Linked DNA regions of Homo sapiens. The protein of the gene in region 2 purifies or fractionates together with the protein of the main gene of each other region. This does not show direct contact. Each region holds a gene or a part of one and is shown on either strand. Other genes may lie near its edges. The genes, in order: SLAIN1, POTEB3, HMMR and SCML2.

The links.
Region 1: the proteins of POTEB3 (region 2) and SLAIN1 purify together in Homo sapiens (co-immunoprecipitation; 2 studies listed by BioGRID and IntAct, with this or other methods). This does not show direct contact.
Region 3: the proteins of POTEB3 (region 2) and HMMR purify together in Homo sapiens (co-immunoprecipitation; 2 studies listed by BioGRID and IntAct, with this or other methods). This does not show direct contact.
Region 4: the proteins of POTEB3 (region 2) and SCML2 purify together in Homo sapiens (co-immunoprecipitation; 2 studies listed by BioGRID and IntAct, with this or other methods). This does not show direct contact.

What each region holds. Positions count from the first base shown.
Region 1 is NC_000013.11:77,700,673-77,707,701, reverse strand, and holds part of SLAIN1 (SLAIN motif-containing protein 1), read right to left. Parts: intron 1-7,029. UniProt on the Homo sapiens protein: Microtubule plus-end tracking protein that might be involved in the regulation of cytoplasmic microtubule dynamics, microtubule organization and microtubule elongation.
Region 2 is NC_000015.10:21,437,473-21,444,675, forward strand, and holds the start of POTEB3 (POTE ankyrin domain family member B3), read right to left. Parts: upstream 3,028-7,203; 5' UTR 2,540-3,027; coding exon 2,019-2,539; intron 1-2,018.
Region 3 is NC_000005.10:163,463,624-163,470,652, reverse strand, and holds part of HMMR (hyaluronan mediated motility receptor), read right to left. Parts: intron 6,798-7,029; coding exon 6,699-6,797; intron 5,931-6,698; coding exon 5,851-5,930; intron 2,953-5,850; coding exon 2,905-2,952; intron 1,013-2,904; coding exon 824-1,012; intron 1-823. UniProt on the Homo sapiens protein: Receptor for hyaluronic acid (HA). Involved in cell motility. When hyaluronan binds to HMMR, the phosphorylation of a number of proteins, including PTK2/FAK1 occurs.
Region 4 is NC_000023.11:18,344,664-18,351,692, reverse strand, and holds part of SCML2 (sex comb on midleg-like protein 2), read left to right. Parts: intron 1-7,029. UniProt on the Homo sapiens protein: Putative Polycomb group (PcG) protein. PcG proteins act by forming multiprotein complexes, which are required to maintain the transcriptionally repressive state of homeotic genes throughout development.

The DNA.
Region 1 (7,029 bases), on a different chromosome or scaffold from region 2:
AGGAGTATAGAAGGTTTATGCATAGAGAAAAAGATGAATCCAAGAGAAGACCTAGAGATGCTTGAATGTGGCCTGGCTACCCATCCAATCACTAGTAAACTGCACCAAGGAGCTCCATCCATTAAGAGCTTTAGATCGGCTTCGGCACCTCCTTTGGGTATGAACAGACAACCAGTGACACCAAATATGTGAAATATTCCTTTTACATGAAACACTGAGACTAAAAGTAGAGGGAGTAAAGAGAACCAAAGAGAAAAACAATGCAGGGAACAGATGAAAATGTCAAGACGAATATAATTTATATCATCTAAAAGAAAATGTTACATTCACACACACACACAAGCACACACATACACATGGATATTGAAAAAAACAGTTTATTCATGCTTGGGAAATGAAACTATCATAGCAAAAACAAAAGAGTCAGTAAATGAGTTTGGAATATCAAGTTGAAGAAGTCTCCTGAAAACAAAATAAAAACAGATTAGCAATGGGATAAGACAGATAAGAAAATCAAGTGATTAAGCCAGATGGAATGACCTACATCTGTCTGTTACAAGTTCTTAAAAAAAAGAAAGAAAGAAAAGAAAGAAACTGGAAAGTTATTTTGAAGAAAAAAAAAAGAGCAAGAAAATTTCCAGAGTGGAAGTCAGGCCATGCAATTCTAGAGTGAAAGTGTGCACGAATGTCCAGTATATTAAATAAAATAACCCATACCAAGGTACAACATGACATTTTAGAATACTAGGAATAAAGGAAGCAAAAGAAAAAGTCAAAAAGGATTAGATATCCAAACACAGTGCACTCAACAGCTAGAACATAACAGAAGCTAGAACAAAATGGAACAGTGCCTTCAAACATGAGGGAAAGGTTAACTTAGACTTTTATAGCCAGTCCAACTATGAATCTTATGTAAGGGCAGAACAATGACATTTTCAAATACGCAGGATCTCAAAGTGTGCCTCTCCTGCAGGTCTCCTTTCTCAGAAAGCTATTGAAGGCTGTGCCCCACCTAAGAGAATAAAAAAAATACAAACGAAAAGGATTTAAGAAGAAGGGAATCCACATTGCCAAGAAACTGAAAGAGTTCCCATGGCAACAGCAGTATGCATCCAGCTTAGGGGGCAAACAGTAAAAACTAGAGCAATGAGATTAAGAGTTTCAGAGGGGATAGCACTACAATATAAATTTTAAAAAAGCAGATTTAACAGACTGCCAAATGTGTATGACCTTAATGAGGGATTTTATGGCTCCTTTAGCGTGTTTGGGGAAATAATTTCTGATAGGTAATTAAAGAAAGTGAAGAGGAGAGAAGAAGTGCCATTACTAACTCTTGGAGGAACAAAGGGGTCAGAGAAAATACATGTTTAACATGCAATTAACAGGACTTAGCTAGTAAATTATAATCATAATGCAGACATTAAATATAAAAGAAAAACCATAAAAACCATTATGAGAAGGGAAAAGAGATATGGTAGTCAAGGGTGAGAGGAAGAGAGCTAAGTTTTCTTCTTTCATAATAAGTCCATAGATGTCTAAGATCATAAAAGTATAAAGACTGTTTAGGAAAAAGAAACAGCTAGTAGAGTATAAAGTGATGCCTATGTGAAGGACTCAGCAGGAGGAGGGAGTAGAGGACTGCTTCCTGTAATAAGCCTAACAAGGGGAGTTTTGAAAACTACTAACATGTTATTATATTATTTTGATAAAACTGTTGAGGTGCTATACAAATGTATGGCATTAAGACAGAAGTGATCATTTTCAGAGTCAGTCTCCTGACAGTGAGCAGGATAGCTTTGAGCCTAGTGTTTCTATGACTTGGCCTAGAGCTGGATTTAAAGAAAGAAAAAGCCCACAATAACCCTGAATGTTTCCAATGAAGTATGACAATTGTCTAGAAAAAAAAAGTCTCAGTTATTCTCAAAATATTTGGTTCTAAAGTCATCTTTTTGCAGATAATACAAAAAACTAGTTATAGAGATCATGTGGCTAAAAACTCCTTGAGTACAACACAGCTCCAAAATTAGATAGGCAAGGTTTTTAAAAAAAAAAAAAAATCTGTATTTCTCCTATATAGCTCTAACCCTCCAAAAAGTCATTTTAAAAATCACTTTATTCAATGTCATTAGAATGCAAGTAACATTTACAATGTCCTATCTGGCCATCATTAGTACATCATACATTCTAGTGACTTATAAACATTTTTTTCAACTTCAGTAGTTTCATTAATGGTATATTGGATTCTGGCAAGAGCATCTGAAAAGTCTTAATCTAAATTTTCAGAATTCTTCAAATTATATTTGAAATATACATTTCAAACTACTATTTGGAATGTCACTCTAATTTTCTTTAACTTTTCTTAAATTGCTTCCAAACCACACACACCAGAAACTACTATCCTTCTCATAGAACCCCTTCTTTTCCATACACATCACATTCTATGCTGGGAGAACAAAAATAATATAAAGCCCATGATAACCCTGAATGTTTCCAATGAAGTATGACAACTGTCTGGAAAACAAAGTCTCAGTTATTCTCAAAATATTTGGTTCTAAAGTCATCTTTTTGCAGATAATACAAAAAACAAATGGTACAGTCACATATGTATACACACAAGTATATATTTTATGTGTGTATATATACATATAAAACCTCTGTATATACAGTTTCTATGTATATATACATATAAAACCTCTGTATATACAGTTTCTATGTATATATACATATAAAACCTCTGTATATACAGTTTCTATGTATATATACATATAAAACCTCTGTATATACAGTTTCTATGTATATATACATATAAAACCTCTGTATATACAGTTTCTATGTATATATACATATAAAACCTCTGTATATACAGTTTCTATGTATATATACATATAAAACCTCTGTATATACAGTTTCTATGTATATATACATATAAAACCTCTGTATATACAGTTTCTATGTATATATACATATAAAACCTCTGTATATACAGTTTCTATGTATATATACATATAAAACCTCTGTATATACAGTTTCTATGTATATATACATATAAAACCTCTGTATATACAGTTTCTATGTATATATACATATAAAACCTCTGTATATACAGTTTCTATGTATATATACATATAAAACCTCTGTATATACAGTTTCTATGTATATATACATATAAAACCTCTGTATATACAGTTTCTATGTATATATACATATAAAACCTCTGTATATACAGTTTCTATGTATATATACATATAAAACCTCTGTATATACAGTTTCTATGTATATATACATATAAAACCTCTGTATATACAGTTTCTATGTATATATACATATAAAACCTCTGTATATACAGTTTCTATGTATATATACATATAAAACCTCTGTATATACAGTTTCTATGTATATATACATATAAAACCTATGTATATATTTTCTATATATATACATATAAAACATATGTACATATATTTTCTATGTATATATACATATAAAACATATGTATATATATTTTCTATGTATATATATACATATAAAACATATGTATATATATTTTCTATGTATATATATACATATAAAACATATGTATATATATTTTCTATGTATATATATACATATAAAACATATGTATATATATTTTCTATGTATATATATACATATAAAACATGTATATATATTTTCTATGTATATATATACATATAAAACATGTATATATATTTTCTATGTATATATATACATATAAAACATATGTATATATATTTTATATGTGTATATATACACATATAAAAATATATATGTGTGTGTGTATATATATATATATAATTTTTTTTTTTTAGACCTGCCACTGAAAAGTAATATGTGGTAATTTTCAGACAAATAATTTTAAGAGCCTTCAATCTCTGCAAGTTTTATTTTAAGGAAAGCTGAAACATCAACACTAATAAGCACGATCAACGAATCTTTAGTTCTCTGTAACAGTGTTTGAGTCACTGGCACCTGCTAGGATCAAACTAGATAGCCACTACAATACTTAGTTCCAACAGGCTCTTAAAAGGATACATGAAGTTCAAGCGTTACTTACTAAGCTGTCCTATAACAAACTTTCCCTCCACCCCCAACCCTGCCTCGCCCAGTTGCAGGTAAACTACTTCAGCACCTCACTTCAACATTTAAAAGTTACTTATTTCAAACACACGTCATACACTTCAGTCAACTCCATTTGCTCCTAGAAAACATTGTACATTTTCAATTAGCACTGTCAAAAAGGGAAGCACCCTCTGGTCTTTTCACTGAAAATCAATTATGCAAAAAACAGTTTAGGTGGTCTAATTTAGTTGTGCCATATGTATAGCACAAGGTGTTCAACAGCTTTGATGAAAAATTGGCAATGATGTTAGCCAGCTGTCTGGGGTCTTGGTATTACATGTGGAAGATGAATATCTCATTCATTAAATTTTTCTTAATTTGTACAAGTCACCATTTTTCCTTGTATAATTAACAACTTTTCCATTGTCTTTCCCAGTTGGGAAAGTTAAAAATCCTTGCCACATCCTGTTTATATAGTCTCAATGTTCTGTTAATTGTCATTCTACTAAAATAAAGCCTCCTTATATGGCTGCATTTTATATTGGCTGACTTATTTTTATCGTGGCATTTTCTCATATAGAACCATCTTCCTGGTTGAGGTGTGCAAGACCTAACTTCCCTTCAGAGTACTATACTATCTTCAGTGCTTTTCCACCTGCTTTCTCCGTTTTGCTTTCAAACAGTATAGAGTTTTGTTAACTTTGATCATAATGCAAAAATACGTTTAATATTTCCACATCTATAAAACTAAAACATATTTAATCAAAGCAAGCATTGTATTATAAGATGTGATAAACTCTGATTTTCTATTCTACTGCACTTCACTTTTTTAAAATGCTGGTCAATCCACTAAATTGACTTTATAAACTTACTAATGAGTTACACAGCTAGCTCTGGGGAAAAAAAAATATCAGTGATGTAAACACTTCTGAATCTGGACAAATAATCTGATTTTTAGTCTGAACTCTATCAGTAACTAGAAGAGCTTACATAAGCCATTTTGCCTCAGAGCTCCCGTCCCTCAACACTGAAATAAGAGGGCTGAAACAGGTCATAGGAAGGTCTAGTATGCAGTTAGCTAATGGCTCCCATTGCCACTTCAGACCAATCTGAATTACTCTGTTTGTACTCTGGTGCTGCAGAGCCTGGTGACATTAGGACAAATATAAATCTTAAAAACATTTCTTCCATAAAGATAGAAAAAGCATCCAATCACACTGTGTCCCATGTATGCATGGATATTTTAGTCCCTTTGAGCTTTTTATTTGCTCCTGATACTCAGACTTTTCCCTTTTCCTTTCTAGCCAATGGCCTTCTGGAGAGCTAAGCCTATCAAATTAGTAAGATAACTGAGGAATCAGTATAGCAGGATGAGAGTTTTACTATAGGGCTATAAGATGACTTAAGAATTCAGGTTCACGATAGCAAAGACTTGGAACCAACCCAAATGTCCAACAATGATAGACTGGATTAAGAAAATGTGGCACATATACACCATGGAATACTATGCAGCCATAAAAAATGATGAGTTCATGTCCTTTGTAGGGACATGGATGAAATTGGAAATCATCATTCTCAGTAAACTATCGCAAGAACAAAAAACCAAACACCGCATATTCTCACTCATAGGTGGGAATTGAACAATGAGATCACATGGACACAGGAAGGGGAATATCACATTCTGGGGACTGTAGTGGGGTGGGGGGAGGGGGGAGGGATAGCATTGGGAGATATACCTAATGCTAGATGATGAGTTAGTGGGTGCAGCGCACCAGCATGGCACATGTATACATATGTAACTAACCTGCACAATGTGCACATGTACCCTAAAACTTAAAGTATAATAATAAAAAATAAATAAATAAGTAAAGAAAGAAAGAAAGAAAGAAAGAATTCAGGTTCTGGAATTGCCATCAACTTTAACTTTCTGAGACACTTAATTCCAGCAATACTGTGCTAAGATAATCAGGTAGTATTAAGGCAACATTCAAGACTTAAAATTCAATTAAGATAAATATTCAAAGAAATAAGAAAATTGTTTCATCAAAGCTTTTTTGTCAAAAGGGAGAGCATAACACTCCATTCTCTTTAAAGCTGTTTTTTTTAAGATACTACTTATAGGTTAAATAATTATTCAGAAAAATGATCTCAAAGACCTGGTTAATCATTAACTAATGAACTATCATAAAGAAAATATTGGTTCTGTTAGTCATGATTTTCCTTACACACATAACTCTTAACCCAAATATTGTCCAAGTTGTTAATAAAAGGAAAATAATGTATTCTAAGGTTTTATTAGAAAAGATATACTTACATAAAAGAATAGCTAAAATATCCAGTGATTAATCTACATTTGTAAACTTTCCTGAACTTATGACATTTTTAGCAGGAAGTGCTATTCTAAATAAATAAGCAAACACATTTTGTTCAACCCATTAGGATGAAATCACAATAAAAAATGCATGAAAAACTGTAGGTGATACAGTTAACAGTAACTTGTTCCTTAATATTGTTACTCTAATAATGATGCCTTTGTTACTGGGAGATGTGATGTCACATGAATACACAAATGTCCAATGTATGTTCAATGAAAGGCAAGTGTTAAAAAAAACTGATGTGTATATGTTTGTATATTGATTGTTGTAATTATATTTTTTTATCTTGAAGGAGCTGCAGAGTATTAACAGGGTGAATTCTGAGTCACGGTAATAAATTGGGGACAAGGAAGATAATTTTTGTGACCTTATACCTACATCTATGTTTTAGTTTTTTTACAATGAGCATGTAAAACTTGTAGTTTTAAATATTTTTAAAATAAGGTACTATATACCCACTCCAGTTGTTTCTTAATAAACACAGGAAATAAAAATAAGTTGCCATCCTGCAAACATATCAGGGAACCAAATGAACAGCACTCTTATTTCTGAGACCACACTACTGGGACACTATAGT
Region 2 (7,203 bases):
ATCTTTATATGAGTTCTTCTCAATACATGGCTATTTTAAGCAATACTAAGAAAAACAGCTGTGTCTGTTTCATATAGATATTTCGGTATAATGGAACAGATGGGTAAAAGGCATACACATTTTAAAAATGTGGTTCTTACCATCAAAGTGTCTATTTGAAAAGTCGCAGCAACTTAAACTTTCAGCAGGTATATAAGTACCACTGTTCTTCACCCTCACAAACTTTGTGGACACAAAACAGTATTTCATTCCTTTATATTTATTTATTTATTTTTATTTATTTATTTTTTTGAGATGGAGTCTCACTCCATCACCCAGGCTGGAGTGTAGTGGTGCAATCTCAGCTCACTGCAACCTCCATCTCCCTGGTTCAAGCAATTCTCCTGCCTCAGCCTCCTGAGTAGCTAGGATTACAGGTGCATGCCACCATGCCCAGCTAATTCTTTGTATTTTTAGTAGAAATGGGTTTCACCATGCTGGCCAGGCTAGTATCAAACTCCTGACCTCGTGATCCAACTGCCTTGGCCTCCCAAAGTGCTGGGATTACAGGCATGAGCCACCATGGCTGGCCTTTCATTCCTCTTCTAACTTAAACAGAAAATAGTCTTTCATTCCTCTTCTAACTTAAATTCCTTCTCTTAGCAGGAATGCTATGTTTTCCTATGTACACAGGTCACTGGTAGACATGCAAAAAAGTACCTTGCCCAATTTTAAATTGAGCTTATTTTATTATATCTGCATATATATGCCGGTTTCAGTGGCTCATGACTGTAATCTCAGCACTTTGGGAGGCTGAGGTGGGTGGATCACAAGGACAGGAGTTCAAGACCAGCCTGGCAAAGATGGTGAAATCCCGTCTTGATTAAGAACACAAAAAATTAGCCAGGCATGGTGGTGGGTGCCTGTAATCCCAGCTACTTGGTAGGCTGAGGCAAAGAATTACTTGAACCAGGAACCAGAGGTTGTAGTGAGCTGATATTGCACCACTGCACTCCAGCCTGGGCTATGGAGTGAGAGTCTGTCTCAGAAAAATAAATAAATATTTGCACATATAAATAGGCATTTGTGTTTTCTTCTGGTACTTTTCTCCTTTTGTATCTTTAAAATTTTTAATCTATACTCCAGGAACTTATTTTTGTGACATAAAAATCTAGGTAGTTTTCTCCAAACAGCATGCATTTAATTTATGAATAATTCACCTTGTTTTACCAATATGAAACATCACCATTATCAAGTGCTAAATTCTTACATATATTTGGGTATTTCTGGATTTCCTATTCTGTTCTGTTCACTTATGTCTTTTCAGCTGTTAGTAAACAATTTGTGGAAATAACACACGCACATTTTGATATCTGGAAAAGCAAGTCTTTTTCCATTCTGTTACAAAAAATCAATTTATCACAATGATAAAATACATCATGTGCAATTTAAAGACACTAAGACTTTGCTATTTTTATTTGGCTTATGTAAAAGTGATAAACACAGAAAAAGCTCACATCTTAAGAAAAACGAACCTTCCTATTCAAAGATATGAACCATACTTCCCATTTCAGTTTCCTTTTAAGGTTACTCAGTAAAGAACGTGTTTACATAGGGTACACATCGATATAAAATCCATATTGGATTTTATTTGAAAAATATTTAGCCCAGAAGTTGATATATTATGGGACTTAGTTCTCAATATACACCTTTCTATAGTGTATAGAACATTGTTTTAAAATGTGTACATTAAAAATAATCTGCTGCATCGACTTAATTTTGCGAGTTAAATCACTTTAAAACCGTCTATTAGTGTTCTATAAGGGAAATTATAATTGGATTGGAAATCAGCTAAAGTTTTGTTTTTGTGTTGCTGTTTATAAAGGGACCTGGGCCCTGACATCTCTGAGGTTTCCACACCCAGGGTGGTGTGGGGCCTGCGGAGGAAGAGAAAGCCTGGCTCCTCCCTCCCTGCGCCAGGAGGGTATGTCCCCATCATCCCCCCATGTCCCGCCTCCTCCCATCCCAGGCCCGGTTACCTCTTTTGCTTGTCCCTCTTGTTCATGTCAGTGTCCCTGAGCATGACGATGAGATCCTTTCTGGGGACTTTACCCCACCAGGCAGCTCTGTGGAGCTTGTCCAGATCTTCTCGACGGACGTGGTACCTCGGCTCCATGAAGGCGCTGTCGTCGTAGTCTCCCCAAGTGCCCACGTTGCTCTTGCCGCTCCCCCTGCAGCAGGGGAAGCAGTGACAGCACCACTTGCCCATCTTGCTCCTGAGTGTCTTCATAAAGGAGTTGTCATGGTCTCCAGAAGTGCCCACATTGCTCGTGCCGCTCCCCCTGCAGCAGGGGAAGCAGTGGTGGCAACACTTGCCCATCTTGCTCCTGAGCGTCTTCATAAAGGAGTCGTCGTGGTCTCCAGAAGTGCCCATGTTGCTCTTGCCGCTCCCCCTGCAGCAGGGGAAGCGGTGGTGGCACCACTTGCCCATCTTGCTCCTGAGATCAAATGGCTTCTTCACAGCAGAGGCAGCGGGCATTGAACAAACCTCAGCCACCATCTGCTTTTAACAGCCAGGGGAGGCCGGTAGTAGCGAACAGATCGCGTCTACCAACCAGTTTCACCAACTAGCAGGAAACCCTGGGTTTCCAATCTGTTTGAAGAGAAAGGTCAATCCCAGCCAAAACTTGCCAAGCCCAGCAAGGGAGCCCAGCCCACCCCACCCAGGGAAAACCCACACCCACCCGGGGAAAGCCCACGCCCACCAGGGGGACCCCACGCCCACCCCAGGAAAGGCCAAGCCCCCCCTCCCAAGGAAACACCCAGCCCAGTCAAGGGAATGCCAAACCCAGCAGAGAAAAGGTCAAGTCCAGCAAAGGAATGCGAGGGAGGAAACGCCAATCCAAGCAAGAAACACCAGGCAAAGCTACTAACAGCCAAGCCAAGCTAGGAACGCAAGGCCAAGCGAGGAACGCGAAGCGAAGTGTACCCGTTACAGGTAAGCCAAGCCGTTATGCGCGTGCGGGGCGCGCGTGCGGGGCGCGCGCCTCAGACGTTATGCGGCGTGTGCGTGAGGCGTGCGCGTGTCATTGCACGTGGTCCAGGAAGTGGCCGATGTGTGCAATCCGCGTGCGCAAGTCTTGGCGCCACAAATGTCAGTGACAGCCTTGCGTTACTGGCAAAGTTCATGGGAGTTGGCCCAGCTTTCTGGCCACTGAGGAGAGAAGCCTGTGGTGGGAAAAAGCCTCTTGAAGCAGGACTGGGGCTAGAGCGCCTGGAACTCGAGGATGCTGACAGCCTCCTCTGAAGAAAGCCCCCAAGACACTAGTGGTGGCGCTGTTGCGGGTGGCCGCCGCTGCAGCTTAGAGCTCTGGTTGGCGGAGCTGGATGCAAATGGCCTCAAAATCTCCGAGCACAAGACGCCCACGGAGCCCAGGGCCTGCCTGAGGCGCCTTCCACACCTGCTCCTCCTTGGTCCGCACCCAGAACACAGGGCCATCAGCAACGGGGCACTCGGGGCCACAGAATCGGGGCTGGGCTGCTAGCTCCTGCTGTGGTGCCCCCTGCCTGGTGTCCAAACCAGGGCCAACAGCTGTGGGGCTTCTGGCCCGGGGTGCTTCGCTTCACTGGCATGCAGTAGGGTTGAGGTGCAGGCCGCTGTCTCCAGGCCTGCAAGAGGGGGCTGGGAGGAGCACCTACCACTGATGGGGAGATGCAGGAAGGCACCCCCACGTGCAGATCCTGGGAACAGGACACTGCCAGCACCAGGGAGCCAGATCGGAGCCTCCCTGGCAGCCTGTGAGCTGGACCCAGGCAGTGGCACCTCTACCCTCCTGCTGGGACCCTCCTGCTGTGCAGGCTTATGCAGCCAGGCTCCAGGCTGCTTCACCCATACTGCAGGTGCTTTGGTGTGGGAGGAAAAATGCATTCTGGCCGGGCACTGTGGCTCACGCGTGTAATCCCAGCACTTTGGGAGGCTGAGGCGGGCGGATCATAAGGTCAGGAGATAAAGACCATCCTGGCTAACACGGTGAAACCTCATCTCTACTAAAAATACAAAATACTAGCGGGCATGGTGGTGGGCGCCTGTAGTCCCAGCTACTCGGGAGGCAGGAGAATGGCGTGAACCTGGGAGGCGGAGCTTGCAGTGAGCCCGAGATCGCATCACTGCAACCTGGGTGACAAAGCAAGACTCTGTCAAAAAAAGAAAGAGAGAGAGAGAGAGACAGAGACAAAGACAGAGACGGAGACAGAGAGACAGACGGAGAGAGAGAAAAATGGATTCTAAGCCTGGGACACCGACCTGCTCTTGCCAACAAAAGCAGAGGGGAAGCCAATTGCAAGTGCAAAAAAAAAGTTTTTATTTCAGTGGGATGAATGTCTAGGTGTGCAGTCACTGGAGTAAACGTCACTGGGACATGCTGTGTAATTCTTTGTGTACATTGCTGAGTTCTACTGCTAATGTTAGCCCATTGCATTCATGAAACTGGTAATTTATGACATCCCTTTTTTCTTTATCATTATTAGTTAAGGTTTGTCAATTTTATAGATATTTTCAAAGAACCAGCTTTATTTCTTTGCTTTTCTTTGTTGTTTTCTTTTGGCTGTTTCATTTATTTCTGCTCTTATCCTTATTATATTCTTTCTTATATTTGTTTTGATTTTATTTTGCTACTATTTTCTACTTTCTTGATGTGATAGCTTGAATTTTTATTTGAGAGATTTCTACTTTTCTATTATATATATTTAGTGAAATACATTTTCCTCTCAGCACTGACGTCAACTGTGTTAAATCAAGTTTGATATGTTGTATTTTTATTTTTATTCAGTTTAATATATTTAATTGTTTCCCTTGAGACGTTCTCCTTAGAAGTGTGCTTGCTGTTTAGCACTATTCACAATAGCAAAGACATGGAATCAACCTAAATGCCCATTGGTAATAGACTGGATGAAGAAAATGCAGTACCCATACAACATGGAATACTATGCACCCATAAAAATGAAGGAGATCATGTCCATTGCAGGGACATGGATGGAACAGGAAGCCATTATCCTCAGGAAACTAATGCAGAAACAGAAAGCCAAACATCTAATGTTCTCACTTATAAGTAGGAGCTGAACAATGAGAACACATGGACACAGGGAAGTAAGCAACACACACTGGGGCCTGTGGATGGGGGAGGGAGAGGAAGAGCATTGGGAAAAATCTCTAATGCATGCTGGGCTTAAACCGAGGTGATGGGTTGATAGGTAGGGAAAACCACCATGGCACAAATTTACCTATGTAACAAACCTGCACATCCTTCACACCTACCCCAGAACTTAAAATAAATAAAAATGTAAAAAAAAGAACTAAAAAAGTATGCTGTTTATTTTTCAAGTATTTAAGATTCTGCTGTTATTTTACTTTTATATTTTTAATTTGATGCCATTTTGGCTGGAGGATACATTCTACAGGATTTCAGTTTTTAAAAAATTCTTAATGTTTGTTAAAATCCAGGATACAGTCCATTTTGGTTTATGTTCTGTGGGTACCTAAATGTTCTGCTGTATTCTGCTGCTAGGGGGTGGAGCCTGTTTTTTTCTTCTTTTTTTTATCTCCAGGTACAATTTGCCCTATGAGACACCTGATATAGTAAGTAGCCCATCAGGTATCCAGCAGTAAAAACTAAATTAGTGGAAGGAAGTCCTGTCCCAACTGGTTTGACATATTGTGGCTGAATTTTTAGGTTTTAGTGAAAATAATAATGATGGCTTGATCTTCAAAGTTGTTTTTTTTTTTTTTTACCATTTCCCAAATAGCTGGGGATTATTGTGGTGTAACCACTTAAAACTCTGATGAAATGTGGAAAGAATTTCTTTTTCTAATTGATACTTTGTGAGTGCAACTACTTTGCATTGTGCAGAGAGAAAAAAATATATTCCAGGCATTCGCCAAATCAAAAGTGCATGAACAAGTCCCTAAATTTCTTCCTGTCCTCAGATTTCCACCATAAAGTTTCAGACCAAATAAAAAATTGTTTTTTCACTAATTTTCTTTGAGGAAATGTAAGAGAAAAAAAAGAAAGAAACAAGTGTTTTGAAGGGTAGAATTTTGGCAATTATATGAGATTGTAAAATCCGAATGTGGATTAGCTTCAACTCATCAAAGATTCAAGAACAGCTACAGTTCTAAGAATGAGCCAAAAAAAAATGGGTATGCATTGAGGGGAGGGAATTAGGAAGGGAATTTATAGCCATTCAGACATTTCCCAACATTAAGCCTTCATGAATTTTGCATTGGAAAGAAATATTTATAAATTAAGAAACTCAGTATCCAGTCCACCCTGTGATAAATACTGCAATGTGCCCAAGCATTCCAATTTGAGTATGGCTTTGTGCTTTGCCAATCATAACAATGGGAGATAGAAGTAATAAGAGCCTGCATGAAGCACTGTGCTAATGATAATTTTCCCAGTAAGAACAAAAGAGAGGCCATTACTTTTAAACATCATTGAATATAATCAAACACTGGGTAGGCTTGTCTGTATTTAGATTTTATAACTCTACGGTTATAGCTATAAAGTAAAAAAGACATATTATAAAATTTCTGTCATTAAGAAAAGTATTTATTATTACAAATGTGAATTTCTCTAGACGGTAAATTCTTTGGAATTAGTTGACTTCATGTAAGTTGATTTGTTCAGTAACACAGAGTAGACTTCTTGTAAATAGGAACAAGTGTGCATCTGATCAAGATCCACTATTTTCTTATATGTATATCCCTTTTCTGCCTTCCCTCAGAATACTATCTTTCACAAAACAACACACATCTCTTCCACCAACTTCTCCCCAGAATATTGCATATTCGATCAGTGTCCACAAATGTTAGATACAGAATGTTAAATTACTATTAGGTTCGCACAAATGTAGTTGTGATTAATGGCAAAAATCGCAATTATTTTTGCACCAACCTAATAGTAACATTGAAACACAATATTAGTTATTCAACATCAGAAAGATCTTCCAGAACAGTCATCACCACAGATGGGCCAAACTATTATTTGTAGGGCACTGCAGTAAGTTAGAATTTTATCAAATTCATAAATTAATGGATATTTTGTTAAGGGATATGAACAGCCTGTAGTATAAATTTGAGCTATACATTGTTGGGAGAACAAAATAATAAAACGATATAATAGTAGCAATCAAGTGGTGACCTTTCTGTCACACTTACAATTTTCA
Region 3 (7,029 bases), on a different chromosome or scaffold from region 2:
TTTTTGTAAGACAGAGTCTCACTCTGTCACCCAGGCTGGAGTGCCGTGTTGCTCACTGCAACTTCCACCTCCCGAGTTCAAGCTATTCTCATGCCTCAGCCTCCCGAGTTCAAGCTATTCTCATGCCTCAGCCTCCTGAGTAGCTGGAATTACGGGTGTACGCCACCATACCTGACTAATTTTTGTATTTTTAGTAAAGATGGGGTTTCGCCATGTTAGGCTAGGCTAGTCTCAAAATCCTGACCTCAAGTGATCCATCCGTCTCAGCTTCCCAAAGCGCTGGAATTACAGGTGTGAGCCACTGTGGCTGGCCTGTTGGTTCATTTTTGAAAGGTTGTTTGGGTGGTCACTTACCTCTATATGCTGGAAAGTCCATTGCAAGACTCTAAAGCAAGTCCCTGAGAAAGGATTTCTTGAAACATGTTTGCTTAACAAAATGAATCTGAATCGCCTGGTGTATGTTGTTTTGTTTTGTTTTGTTTTTTGAGATGGAGTCGCACTCTCTTGCCTAGGCTGAAGTGCAATGGCGCCATGTCAGCTCACTGCAACCTCCACCTCCTGGGTTCAAGTGATTCTTCTGCCTCAGCCTCCCGAGTAGCTGAGATTACAGGCGCCCGCCAATAGGCCTAGCTAATTTTTGTATTTTTAGTAGAGACAGGGTTTCTCCATGTTGGTCAGGCTGGTCTCGAACTCCCGACCTCAGGTGATCCGCCTGCCTTGGCCTCCCAAAATGCTGGGAACACAGGCGTGAGCCACCGTGCCCGGCCCTAAAAAACGTGTTTATATTTATTCAATTGTAAATATTATCATGAGGCTCAGATACCTTAGATTTTAGTAGTTCATTAGTCCTGGTCAATTCAATAAGTTGTTTTTCCAGTGTAGCATTATTTGCAGAGAGAGATGTTTTTTCCCTTAGTGCAGCATTTAGCCTTGCTTCCATCTTTTCCAACTCAGTTTCCAGATCCTGGATCCGCCTGTCCTGGGCACCACGTTCCTGTAGAAGAACACGAATCTGGACAAAAACAAGGTGATAATAAATGATTCACTGATAGAATGCCAACATAAGGAGATGCTACCAATAATCACCCCTAAAGTTTCTGGAAAAATCTCTGATTTTGACATTATGCTTGTAGATATTCTAATGTTACTAGCTATTTGAATAATCATATTTACCTATGATACATCTTAAAAGTCTTAATGCATTTTAAGAACATAAGAACTTTAGTTGCCATAAGTTCCAAGTACAATTAAGCTATCTATTCACTTTTTTTTTTTTTTTTTTGAGATGGAGTCTTGCTCTGTGCTCTGTTGCCCAGGCTGGAGTGCAGTGGCACGATCTCGGCTCACTGCAAGCTCCGCCTCCTGGGTTCAAGCGATTCTCCTGCCTCAGCCTCCCGAATAGCTGGGACTACCAGCACGGGCCACCACACCCGGCTAATTTTTTGTATTTTTAATAGAGACGGGGTTTCACCATATTAGCCAGGATGGTCTCGATCTCCTGACCTCGTGATCCACCCGCCTCAGCCTCCCAAAGTGCTAGGATTACAGGTGTAAGCCACCACACCCGGCCGCTATTTATTCACTTTTAAGGTATTTCCACCTATAATAGTTATTTTCTCTAGCTTCAATTACACAAATTCAAATTAGCTTAAAATGCTAAATGTTTTTTATTTCAAGAAGGCAGAGCTGGGCTTCTGAGGAGAATGTACTAGGCATTGGCAAGCCATCATTCTTGCTGCTATTACCAGATTAAAAAAACAAAAAACAAAAAAAAACCCAAACCAATATTTGTCAACAGAAAATGTGGAAGCCAAAAGACAATGAAATGATATTTTTAATATAATGGGGGGGAACCTGCCACCCTAAAATTCTATACCCAATGAAGTCACTGGTGTAAATTATTAGTTCTAATCCTGGCTCTACCACTCACTTACCAGCTATCTCACTGAGACTCAGTGATTATTCCTGTAAGTATCAACCCCTACATGTACCCTCAGTAAAATGATAGCTAACATTATTAGAATACATAAAAAAGAATCAGAGCAACTGAGCAGACATTTACAGTTACTCTGACATACTCTTGGTTGAAAGCCAACATTCGACTGTAATCAAATGAAAGATTTTAATATATTGAAAGAATATATCCATGAGGAAAAGAGTTGGTCAGCAATGGAAACAGAAAAAAAAGACTGCAGAGAAGCAAAGTTCACAGTGAGCTGCTTAGCATTGCTAGGAAAGTAAATGGGTTCTTTAGGTTAGTACTGTTCAATAGAAATTTCTGTCATGGTGGAAATGCCCTGTCCAGTATGGTAGCTGCCAATCACATGTGGCTACTGAGCACTTGAAATGTGATTATTGCAACTGAGGAATTGAGTTCTTATTTAATTTAGATCATCACATGTGGTGAGTAGCTACCATATCAAACAGCACAGCTCTATGTTATTTCACCCATGAGGAAGGCCTATACCTATTGTGCAGAGCAATGCATCGAGTTAGCCTAACTTCATCACAGTCTAACCAGCTAGGATTGCATGCTCACTAAGAAATCCTCTAGCTATGTTGTGTTAACATAAGTTAGCATACAGGAAGACTGTGAACGATGGATAGATATAAATATTTGATCCACATATATAATTGTAATCAACTGACATAATGATTTTTCAGTTATCAGTTTTTCATTAAGTGGGCTATCTTTAATCTCGGCGTTGCCAGCATACCACATTAACATAGCCCGGATAGATCTGTGAAATACTGTAAGAACTGTTTTCCTGTAGGCACTGTTCTGGATGGCATGTTTGCCTCACTGCAGGACTCCTCACACTGCAACAGAATCCTTATCTCTTAAATCTGTGTAACTCTCTTTCTATCATGTGTACTTTTCACTAAGTTTAAAGCACTGCTTACCTCTTTCTCTAATATCTTCAAATCTTTATCATTCTTTTGAGATTCCTTCTGTTTAAAAGCCAAAAAAACTTATAAGCAAATTTAGATGTCACAGATATGACAGCCAAATTTGTTTTTCAGTTATCAGAAAAGATGAAGGGATCCAATCAGTTAGTTTCTATTTTAAACATTACACTGTTAAACATTGTGTAGGCCACTCATCTGATAAATAAAATATTCTAAAAATCTCAAGACATTTTAGGTTTAGAAATTTTCAACCCAATAAATCAGGATTTTCCTAATCAGCCCAGTGAAAAGAACAGGTGGAACTTTATGAATAAAGCTACTGACTGCCTCCCTCTAATGTTAAATAGCAACACATCTTGAATATTTAATTATGCTATCTCAGAAAGAATCTTACAAAGAGAAATCGACTTAAACTTTGATACCCGAAGAGGAAAATATACAGATGCAAAGAAATAAAAACTGAAACAGCATAAGCTCTGATTCTAATTTTCTCATTGGCTTTATTCTAAATAAGACATATAATTTTCACACTATATCTTTTTATATCCAACAGACTTTCTGACACAATGGCTAGAAAAAGAATATCTTTTCCATCTAAAAATGGAAGAAAGGCATCAACATCTTGAATGAAATCTGTTTCAGATGTTTCTAAGTGGGGCAGGAGGTGGGGGTGACATCAGTGTCATGTTTATTAATTTCACACTCCATGAAATTTTTTATGGGGAAGGACTATTATTTTGGGGCTCCATACAAACTTGTATGTAATTTAGTTTTCTAAGGGGCTTTATAAATTACAAAATTACAGAACAGTTTCTTCAAGAAATTTAAGTCAAACCACTTACATCAATTTCTAAGAAAAGAGTGTCTATAATAGTCCTGCCCAATAAAAATAATGCAAGCCACCTATGCATTTAAATTTTTCTAGTAGTGTGTTTAAAAAGTAAAAATCTTAATATATTTTATTTAACCCAACATATCAAATATATTTTTTCAGCATGTCATTGGTATAAAATTATCAATGAGATGTTTTATATTTTTGTACTAAGTCTTTAAAGTTTTCTTTGTATTCTACACTTATAGCACGTCTTAATTCAATGCTAAATTTTCATCAGAAATGTTTATGTATATTTAATTTCATAAAACATAGAAAGGAGAAAGTAAATTCACATACTCAAGTTGTTCCAAAAATATTTAAAAGCGTTCCACTAACAAAATCGAGTATGTCTTTAAATATGTATTAATTAAAATTAAATATTAAAAATTTAGTTCTTTAATAGCACTAGCCACATTTCAGTTGCTCAATAGACACATGTGGCTATGCTTCCATACAGAACAACATAGCTCTATATTACAGAATATGAGGCTTAGGCAACTGCCAAATGAATGAACAACCTAAGCCTTTTTCCAACTCTGAATATTTTTCACATCAAAAAACCTATTAATTTGTACAACTTTTTTACTTTATTTTTATCTTTGAGATAGGTCTCGCTCTGCTGCCCAGGCTGGAGTGCAGTGGTGCAATCTCTCGGCTCACTGCAACCTCTGCCTCCCTAGGTTCAAGCAGTTCTCCTGCCTCAGCCTCCCGAGTAGCTGGGATTACAGGTACGTGCCACCACACACGGCTAATTTTCTTGTATTTTTAGTAGAGACGGGGTTTCACCATGTGGGTCAGGCTGGTCTCGAACTCTTGACCTCAAGCAATCCACCTGCTTCAGCCTCCCAAAGTGCTGGGATTACAGGCGTGAGCTACTGTGCCCGGCTGTCTTTTTTTTTTTTTTTGGAGAGACTGAGTCTCGCTCTGTTGCCCAGGCTGGAGTACAGTGGCACCACCTTGGCTGACTGCAACCTCTGCCTCCCAGGTTCAAGCAATTCTCCTGCCTCAGCTTCCCAAGTAGCTGGGACTACAGGCACGTGCCACCACGTCCAGCACATTTTTGTATTTTTTAGTAGAGATGGGGTTTGACTACATGTTGGCCAGGCTGGTCTCAAACTCCTGACCTCAAGTGATCCACCTGCCTTGCCTCCCAAAGTGCTGGGATTATAGGCGTGAACCACTGTGCGCCCCCCAGCTGTCTTTTAAAAAGTATTATATGGCGGCTGGGTGTGGTGGACAACACCTGTAATCCCAGCACTTTGGGAGGCCAAAGTGGGCTGATCACCTGAAGTCAGGAATTCAAGACCAGCCTAGCCTGCCCAACTGGCTAATATGTTTAAACCTCGTCTTTAGCAAAAACACAAAAAGTAACTGGGCGTGGTGGGGCGTGCCTGTAATCCCAGCTACTGGGGAGGCTGAGGCAGGAGAATCGCTTGAGCCTGTGGGGACAGAGGCTGCAGTAAGCTGAGATGGCGCCACTGCACTTTAGCCTGGGTGACAGAGTGATACTCCATCTCAAAAAAAAAATACATAAATAAAATTTAAAAAGTACTATGCAGCTTGCCTGTTTATAAACTTATGAAAAGAGTAATAGTAGCTCTTGCACAAGCCACAAGACTATTAAGAATTTAATCTCTCACCACTCCTTAACAGTTTCTCAGTAGCAAACCTCTCTTAGATATTGGCATTTTTTCCCACTTTTCTTCAAAAACACTTACCCTTCCCCACAAACAAATACACAAAAACAAAACAACTCAAATGGTGGTACTTAATAAATCAAAGCATCACATAATTTTGAAATGTTTACTAGGTAATGAACAATTTAAACATAGAAGTGATTGAGAATTGAAGACCATTATAATTGTGAACTAAGGGCACATTTAAACATAATGACCTAGGCAGAAATGTAAAACTTGCTAGAGTTCTAATGATAACTCATTTCATTAATTTACAGATTTACTTATAACCTTGATTCATACACTTAACCCATTCTAATCAAATACAATACTTTCAGATGTTTTTGATGATACACTTGATAAACCAGCTGGCATATAAAAGCTCCTCACCTTTGATTCCGAAGACTTAACTTTTCTAGCTGAAGCAGGCAAGGTAGTATCTTTGTCAACATTAAGATTTTGTTTAGATTCTGCGGAAAAATGAATTGTACAGATCATGGTTGATGTCAATGTGTTTTAACTACACACAAAACACAATTTCCAAATTTTTTTGTCTTTCTCTTTTTGTTTGTTTTTGTTTTTTGAGACAGTCTCACTGTCACCCAGCCTGGACTGCAGTGGTGTCATCTCAGCCCACTGCAACCTCTGCCTCCCAGTTTCAAGCAACTCTCCCACTTTCCTCCCTAGTAGCTGGAACCACAGGCGCACCCCACCACACCTGGCTAATTTCTGTATTTTTAGTAGAGATGGGGTTTCACCATGTTGGCCAGGCTTGTCTCGAAATCCTGAACTCATGTGATCCACCCACCTTGGCCTCACAGAGTGCCAGGATTACGAGCACGAGCCACCTTGCCCGGCCCCAAATTTCTAATTACAACTTTTGATGAAACAATATATTCTTTCCTTAGTTGTACATTTTCAAATAATTACTCATACAATTTTTTTACACATCTAACACCTTTCTGATTTTCCTAATATTCCCTGACAAGTCAAGGTAATTACCAAAAGGGAAGCTACATATCAATATAAGTATCTTGCTTAATTTTCCTGGTTATATAACAATGTAATGATGACAGCATTATTCTGTACTTGACCCTTTCATAAATCCATCAAATAAAATTTAAATATAGTTCTAGCTTCACATTTTAAAAAATGCTATAACATCTTTAAATATTGTTATTCATAACTTTAAAACTTATAAGATCACATAACCATTGTTCTTTGGTGATCTATATTACCTTTTTGTTGTTTAAATCTTTGTGATTTCTGAAAGGATACTGGTCCTTTCAATACTTCTAAAGTTTTAACATCATAAGCACCTGGAGATGGTGCACAACCTAGAGGAAATAGAAAACATTAATATATTATCTAATGTTACTTATGATCTTAAGTTAAAACATGTCATAATAAAGTGAATATAAATGTAAAAATGTCATTAACAAACTGCTTTTTTTAAATGTAAAAAATTGCATCCATTTGATATTACAAAGAAGGCCTCTCTATGAAGAACAATATCATCTTGCCCTTTATATCAACCGGGTCAAAGGAACACAGGCAACTGAGCAAACG
Region 4 (7,029 bases), on a different chromosome or scaffold from region 2:
AGTCTTTTTTTTTTTTTTGCCTGGTTATTCTGTCTGCCATTTTTCTCCCTCTATTCTCATTCCACTTGTGAATGGAAATCGGAGGTCCTCTCTATTAGCTACCCTCTCGGGGTGGGGAGGGTAGGTCTCACTGTCTCCTCATAGTCATATTCCTGATTTTTAGGATATACAAGAACAAAGTGGGCTCTGCCAGCTATCAGCCTTAGAGCTATGAGCTGTGGTGCAAAGATTAGTCTGTCATTGCCAGAAGGTGTTTTGTAGTTTGCAGTGGGCAAATCAAGCATCCCTAATAATTTTAGAACCATTATTAATGTCTGAGAATTACTACATAATACCTTAGAATTTGAACTGATTGTTGATTCCAGGAACTAAAAACCTGGACATTTTGAAAATGGCAAATGTTGGTGATGTTTTTTTTTTTTTGAGATGGGCTCTCGCTGTGTTGCCCAGGCTGTAGTGCAGTGGCGTGATCTCAGCCCACTGCAGCTTCTGCTTCCTGCGTTCAAGCAATTTTCCCACCTCAGCCTCCTGAGTAGTTAGGATTACAGGGGTGTGCCACCATGCCCAGCTAATTTTTGCATTTTTAGTAGAGACGGGGTTTCACCTAGTTGGCCAGGCTGGTCTCAAAACTCCTGACCTCAGGTGATCCTCCTGCCTTGGCCTCCCAAAGTGCTGGGATTACAGGTGTGAGCCACCACGCCCGGCCGTGTTGGTAATTTTGAAGGAAGAGTTTATACCCTTCCCTGGCTTTGGGGCTTAATATTCAGGATCTCTTTGTCTTGGGGAAATAGATAAAAGAAACCACTGGCGTTTATCTTAGATTAAAATGGCATAATTTATACCATTATATAAATACTGGTATAATTTAGTGGTAAGTACATTTTTTAGACTCTAAGTACCTTAGGCTTTGGTTACCATTTATAAAAAGAGTTTGTGGTAGTTCTTTTTTTGATACGGAGTCTTGCTCTGTTACCCAGGCTGGAGTGCAGGTGCAATCTCGGCTCATTGCAACCTCTGCCTCCTGGCTTCAAGCAATTCTCCTGCCTCAGCCTTCCCAGTTGCTGGGACTACAGGCATGTACCGCCACACCCAGCTAATTTTTTTTTTTTTTTTTTCCGAGATGGAGTCTCGTTTTGTCACCCAGGCTGGAGTAGAGTGGCACGATCTCAGCTCACTGCAACCTCTGCCTCCCAGGTTCAAGTGATTCTCCTGCCTCAGCCTCCCAAGTAGCTGGGACTACAGGCGTGCGCCACCGAGCCTGGCTAATTTTTGTATTTTTAGTAGAGATGGGGTTTTACCATGTTGGCCAGGCTGGTCTCAAACTCCTGACCTCAGGTAATCCATCCACTTCTGCTGCCTCTCCAAGTGCTGGGATTACAGGCATGAGCCACCGAATCTGGCCTTTGTTTTTTTTGAGAGTCTTGCTCTGTCTGTTGCCCAGGCTGGAGTGCGGTGGTGTGATCTTGGCTCACTACAGCCTCTGCCTCCTGGGTTCAAGCAATTCTTGTGCCTCAGCCCCTGAGTAGCTGGGATTACAGGCGTGCATCACCATGCCCACTAATTTTTGTATTTTTCATAATTTTTGTATTTTTAGTAGAGATGGGGTTTCACCATGTTGGCCAGGCTGTTCTCGAATTCCTGGCCTCAAGTGATCCTCCTGCCTTGGCTTCCTGAAGTTCTGGGATTACAGGCGTGAGCCACCTCGCCCTGCCAATGGTGGTTCTTAAAAATAACTTGAAAAAATTTTAGAAGCTATCAAGATTTGAAATGTGTATGTGTTCTTTGGTTTTCATGAGAAAGGCGATTTTGTTTATTTTGTCATTATGTTGTCTATTTCTAGGGTTACCTTGGCAACCTTAGAAATAATACTGGGTTTTTTTTTGTTTGTTTTTTTTTGAGACGGAGTCTCGCTCTGTTGCCCAGGCTGTAGTGCAGTGGCACAATCCTGGCTCACTGCAACCCCCACCTCCGAGGTTCAAGTGATTCTCTTGCCTCAGCCTCCTGGGGAGCTGGGATTACAGGCGTGCGCAACCATGCCCAGCTAATTTTTTAAAAAATAATTTTAGTAGGGACGGGGTTTCACCATGTTGTTCAGGCTGGTCTCAAACTTCTAACCTCAAGTGATCCACCTGCCTTGGCCTCCCAAAGTGCTGGGATTACAGGCGTGAGCCACCACGCCCAGCCTGGAGAGGTGTTAACATAAGCAATGGAGATATCTTATTGTGTGAAAAGTGAAATATTTGAGGATCCTGTAGCAGTGAATATGATGGTGCTGTTCATCTTAATATCATGATCATTTGACCTAGACTACATGAATTCCTTATTTGAAGAGTTAAAACTTATAGAATAAGCTGTGAGTAAAGACCTGGGAAACTGAAGATAGCATTTGATTACCTACTACTTGTGACCTGTGTTTATGGCTATGGCTCTGCCTCTTCCTAAGTTTATAGGAGCAAATTGTTTTAAGAGGGGAAAGAGAGTGCCCACTTTTAGTGGTAACGTACTGTTGTAAACTTCAGAAGGGACAGATATATTACAATTCTAGGGCATACCTTGAAGATGCTTTCATTTCTCAGAGAAAAGTTTGCGGGGCTCTCTTTGGTTGTGTTTAGAATACACATTTGATTTTTCGCAACCTCTGTTTCTCATAAAGATTAACTGGTGGCGAATTATAGACAAACAGCTCCATTTGTTTGGTATGTACCTTATAGCCTTGACATAGTTTTTTAAGTGTATTGACAAAGTGCTTGTTTTTTTTGGTTAACATTTGGCCACTTTTCCTACCTTTCATCAGTTTTAGCTGGTTTAAGGTTTGATTATATATTTATTTTTAAATGCTGAATCAAATGTGTTTCTTCTTTTCAGTTCTCTTCCTCTTTGAATACATTTGGAAACATGTGCCCTTTGCTATGAACTGTTGCTTTTTTTTCTTTGGAAATATTTTTTAAAATGTTATTTGGAGTATTTTTCTCTTTAATGTTATTTGAAAAGCAATATAGTCAGTATTAATTTTTAACTAACTTGATAGAGTTTCATAAATCTGTTCAAATGAAACACGGCATCTTTGGTCATTAAAAGAATTAATATATAGTAGGCAATAGTAAGTATATTTAGATATTGTTTGGTTTTAGATTACTTTAGAGACTCTGATTTGAGATTTTTTTTGTGTTGAAATTTGAGAAGTTGTAGAAATATTTGAATGGGTAATTTGCTGACACCTGCCTCATGTTTGAGGTATTTTCAAGGATGTTTAGTTTTCTGGTTTCTTCAGATTGTGGTTTATTGCATGCTTTTCTGCAGTCTGTTGTCTAGTGGGGATTGTTGTTGTCATCATTTCCATTATTTCTTGTAGGGCCGGTGTTAGAAACCATAAATCTAGACTGCAGTGATAATAGGAACAGCCTGTAACCAGATCCAGTTCTTTTGTCAAAAAGTTGCACCATTAGCTGCCTGTAGTATATTGACATGCCCTGCCATTAACTCAAGTCCTTCACAAAAGTCAGTGGGTAGCAGGTCTTTGGGCAGTTAGCCTGTAGCTGTGCTTTAAAACCTCAGGAATTTACAACTATAAACTGGGATTTTGGCAACCCTTGACTTATCTTTCGTTTATCTGTTTTCTGACATGACATACTTCTTCACTAAATACATAGCTTTCACATAAATCATTTTGAAATTGCAAGTGATTAACTTACAGGTTTTTTGGGGGGTAACTTAAATTAGAAATTTTTGAAAATAGTTAAGCCTTCTTAGGTTTGTTTTGACACAGAAAAAGATTAATTACTAATTTGTTGGGGTGGACTCTTTACTAAAGCATAATTTAAAATTGCTCCTTTAGAAACCTTAATTTCCTCAAGAAGGCTTGATTTGATAAATTATTGCTACCAAAAATGTTCTTTGATTTTTTTTTACAGATTTCAGAAATATGGAGATGAAAATGTTCTTTTTTTTTTTTTTTTTTTTTTTTTTTTTGAGACGGAGTCTTGCTCTGTCACCCAGGCTGGAGTGCAGTGGCATGATCTCGGTTCACTGCAGCCTCTGCCTCCCAGGTTCAAGCAATTTTCATGCCTCAGCCACCCGGGTAGGTGAGATTATAGGTGTGTACCACCGCAGACGGGGTTTTGCCATGTTGGCCAGGCTGGTCTCGAACTTCAGACCTCAAGTGATCTGCCCACCTCGTATTCCCAGAGTGCGGGGATTACAGGCATGAGCCCCTGCGCCCGGCCTAAAAATGTTCTTTTTTTTTTTTTGAAATGGAATTTTACTCTTGTCACTCAGGCTGGGGTGCAATGGCACTATCTTGGCTCACTGCAACCTCCCCCTCCCAGATTCAAGCGATTCTCCTGTCTCAGCCTGCCAGGTAGCTGGGACTACAGGTGCCCGCCACCACACCCGGCTAATTTTTGTATTTTTGGTAGAGACGGGGTTTTACCATGTTGGCCAGTCTGGTCTCAAACTCTTGACCTCAGGTGATTCACCCGCCTCAGCCTCCCAAAGTGCTGGGATTACAAGCTTGAGCCACCGCACCCGGCTTGTTCTTTCTTAATATTGATTAGTCTTAATTCAGAGATAGAATTTTAGTTTTAAATGTAATTACAGTATTAGAATTTAGTGTTTTTCTGATTACTTTTATAACTATGTCAGAAAATGTGACATTTGATTATTTACTTGAGTGAATTGAATAGATACTTGTGGAATCTTAATGTGATGACTCATGTTCAATTCCACAAAATTATGTATGGTTATACAATGGAATATACACTTTTTCTATCCTGTATTAGGATAATCACTATTACCAGAAACAAAATCTTAGTTGAAAGAGAGAGCTTCTCTTGGTCAAAGAAAAAATACATAACTACAGTGTATTTTAATTAAATCAGTATTTTTTTTTGCATTTAGGCATAAATGTGAAGTACTTCTTGAAACAAAATAATAAACTATTTACAAGTTAAAAACATAAAGGTGTTATTTTATGCAGTTAACTCAGACCTTCCCCTTCACAATAAAGGACAGCGTTTTTGTTTGTTCAAGTCTAAAAGTAGTGTCTTTATAACAAGATAGATTTTAAAAGGAAAAGAACCCTTTCTACCTGTGCTATTTAATTAATCTCTGGTAAATTGTGTATGTATAATAACTTCCGTCACTTATTCCAACATTTTCTTTAAAACACCAGCAAACGTATTTGTGAATCTCTCTTATCCTTGAAACTTCTTATGCTGTTGATAAACTCAAGGGGCTATGATGAAACATTTTTTTCAATAGATTATTTTGTGAATAGGGACTTGGCTTGTTGTTTCTTTTTTTGGTGAATATTGGTTTAAAGCACATGTTTTAGTTATACCTGTTATGTAGTTGGCATTTATAAACTGAATTCTATAATGGTAACTCATACGGAGCCTGACTTTTTGAGACCATGAACATCCTAGAAAGAGATAAAATTCAGAGTAAAAAAAAAAGGCCAATCAACTTCTGGGAAAGAGAGAGATATTGGAGGTGGGGGATTGTCTCAGATCTCACAGAATTTTCTCCTTGGCCCATTGACTTAGACTTGTGTGTAAATTAAGACAGCTGATTTGATATTGCAGGAAAGAACAGAGAACAACAATGATGGCCAAAAGAAAAATCTCGGCCGAGCGCCGTGGCTTACGTGAGCCTGTAATCCCGGCACTTTGGGAGGCTGAGGCAGGAGGATCATTTGAGCTCAGGAGTTTGAGACCAGTATGGGCAACTTAGTGAGCCATCGTCTCTACTAAAATTAAAAAAAAAAAAAAAATTAGTTGCTGAGCTTGTTGGCACATGCCTATAGTCCCAGCTACTTTGTGTGTGTGTGTGTCGGGGGTAGGGGGTGTGCAGGGGGTGTGCTGAGGCAGGACAATCACTTAAGGCCGGGAGGTCAGGCTGCAGTGAGCCCTGATTATGCCACTGAACTCCAGCCTGGGCAACAGAGTGAGACCCTGTCTCAAAACAAAGAATAAAAGAAAAATTTTATCAAAAAATTGTTTTAGTCCATGTGTGGTGGCTTACACCTCTAATTCCAGCACTTTGAGAGGCTGAGGCAAGAGGATTCATTGAGCCCAGGAGTTTGAGACCAGCCTGGGCAACATGGAAAAACTCTGTCACTACAAAAAATACAAAAATTAGCCAGGTATGGTGGTGTGTGCCTGTAGTCCCAGCTACTAGGGAGGGTGAGGTGGGAGGATCACCTGAGCCCGGGGAGGTTGAGGTTGTAGCGAGCTATGATCACTCCACTGCACTCCAGCCTGGGTGACAGAGAGACCCTGTTTCAAAAAAAAAATTGTTTTTAAAAACCACAGTATTCTGGTTCTATATAGTTTAGATACAAGCAGCCTATAGCACAGCAGAGTTTACTCATTCAGCAAACATTTTGGGGACCCTAGTATGTGATAGACACTGTGCTCGTTATTCTGAAGGATATAAAGAAGAACGAGATGTGATACTGCCCCCAGGAGCTTATTGTCTAGCACGGGAGAAAAGGCACTTACACAGTTAAACACAACAAAGGCAGTTTTAGCACAATGGTTAAGCATTCATGAACCTAGATTCAAACCTAGCTGGGTGATCTTGGGCAGGTCTTTGAGCCTCAATATCCTTAACTTTCAAATGAACATTAATGGACATTAATAACAGTATCTACTATGCAGGCTTGTAATAAGCTTTAGATAAGAAAAAATACATATATAAAAGCCTTAGGGTAGGGTACCAGGCATTCATTAATAGCAAGAGCTCAGTAAGTAACAGATCTGAGTAGTAGTATCACCACTGCCAACACCATTATCATTGAATCTCTGGGAACATAACTTTTGTTTTCTCCTGCCCTCATGGATCCGTTTTGTCTAGGGTATCTGGTATATTATAATATCTCCTTGTATTAGTCTGTTTTCACGCTGCCGATAAAGACATACCTGAAACTGGGCAATTTATAAGAAAAAGAGGTTTAATGGACTTACAGTTCTACCTAGCTAGGGAGGCCTCACAATCATGGTGAAAGGCATGTCTTACAGGGCAGCAGAT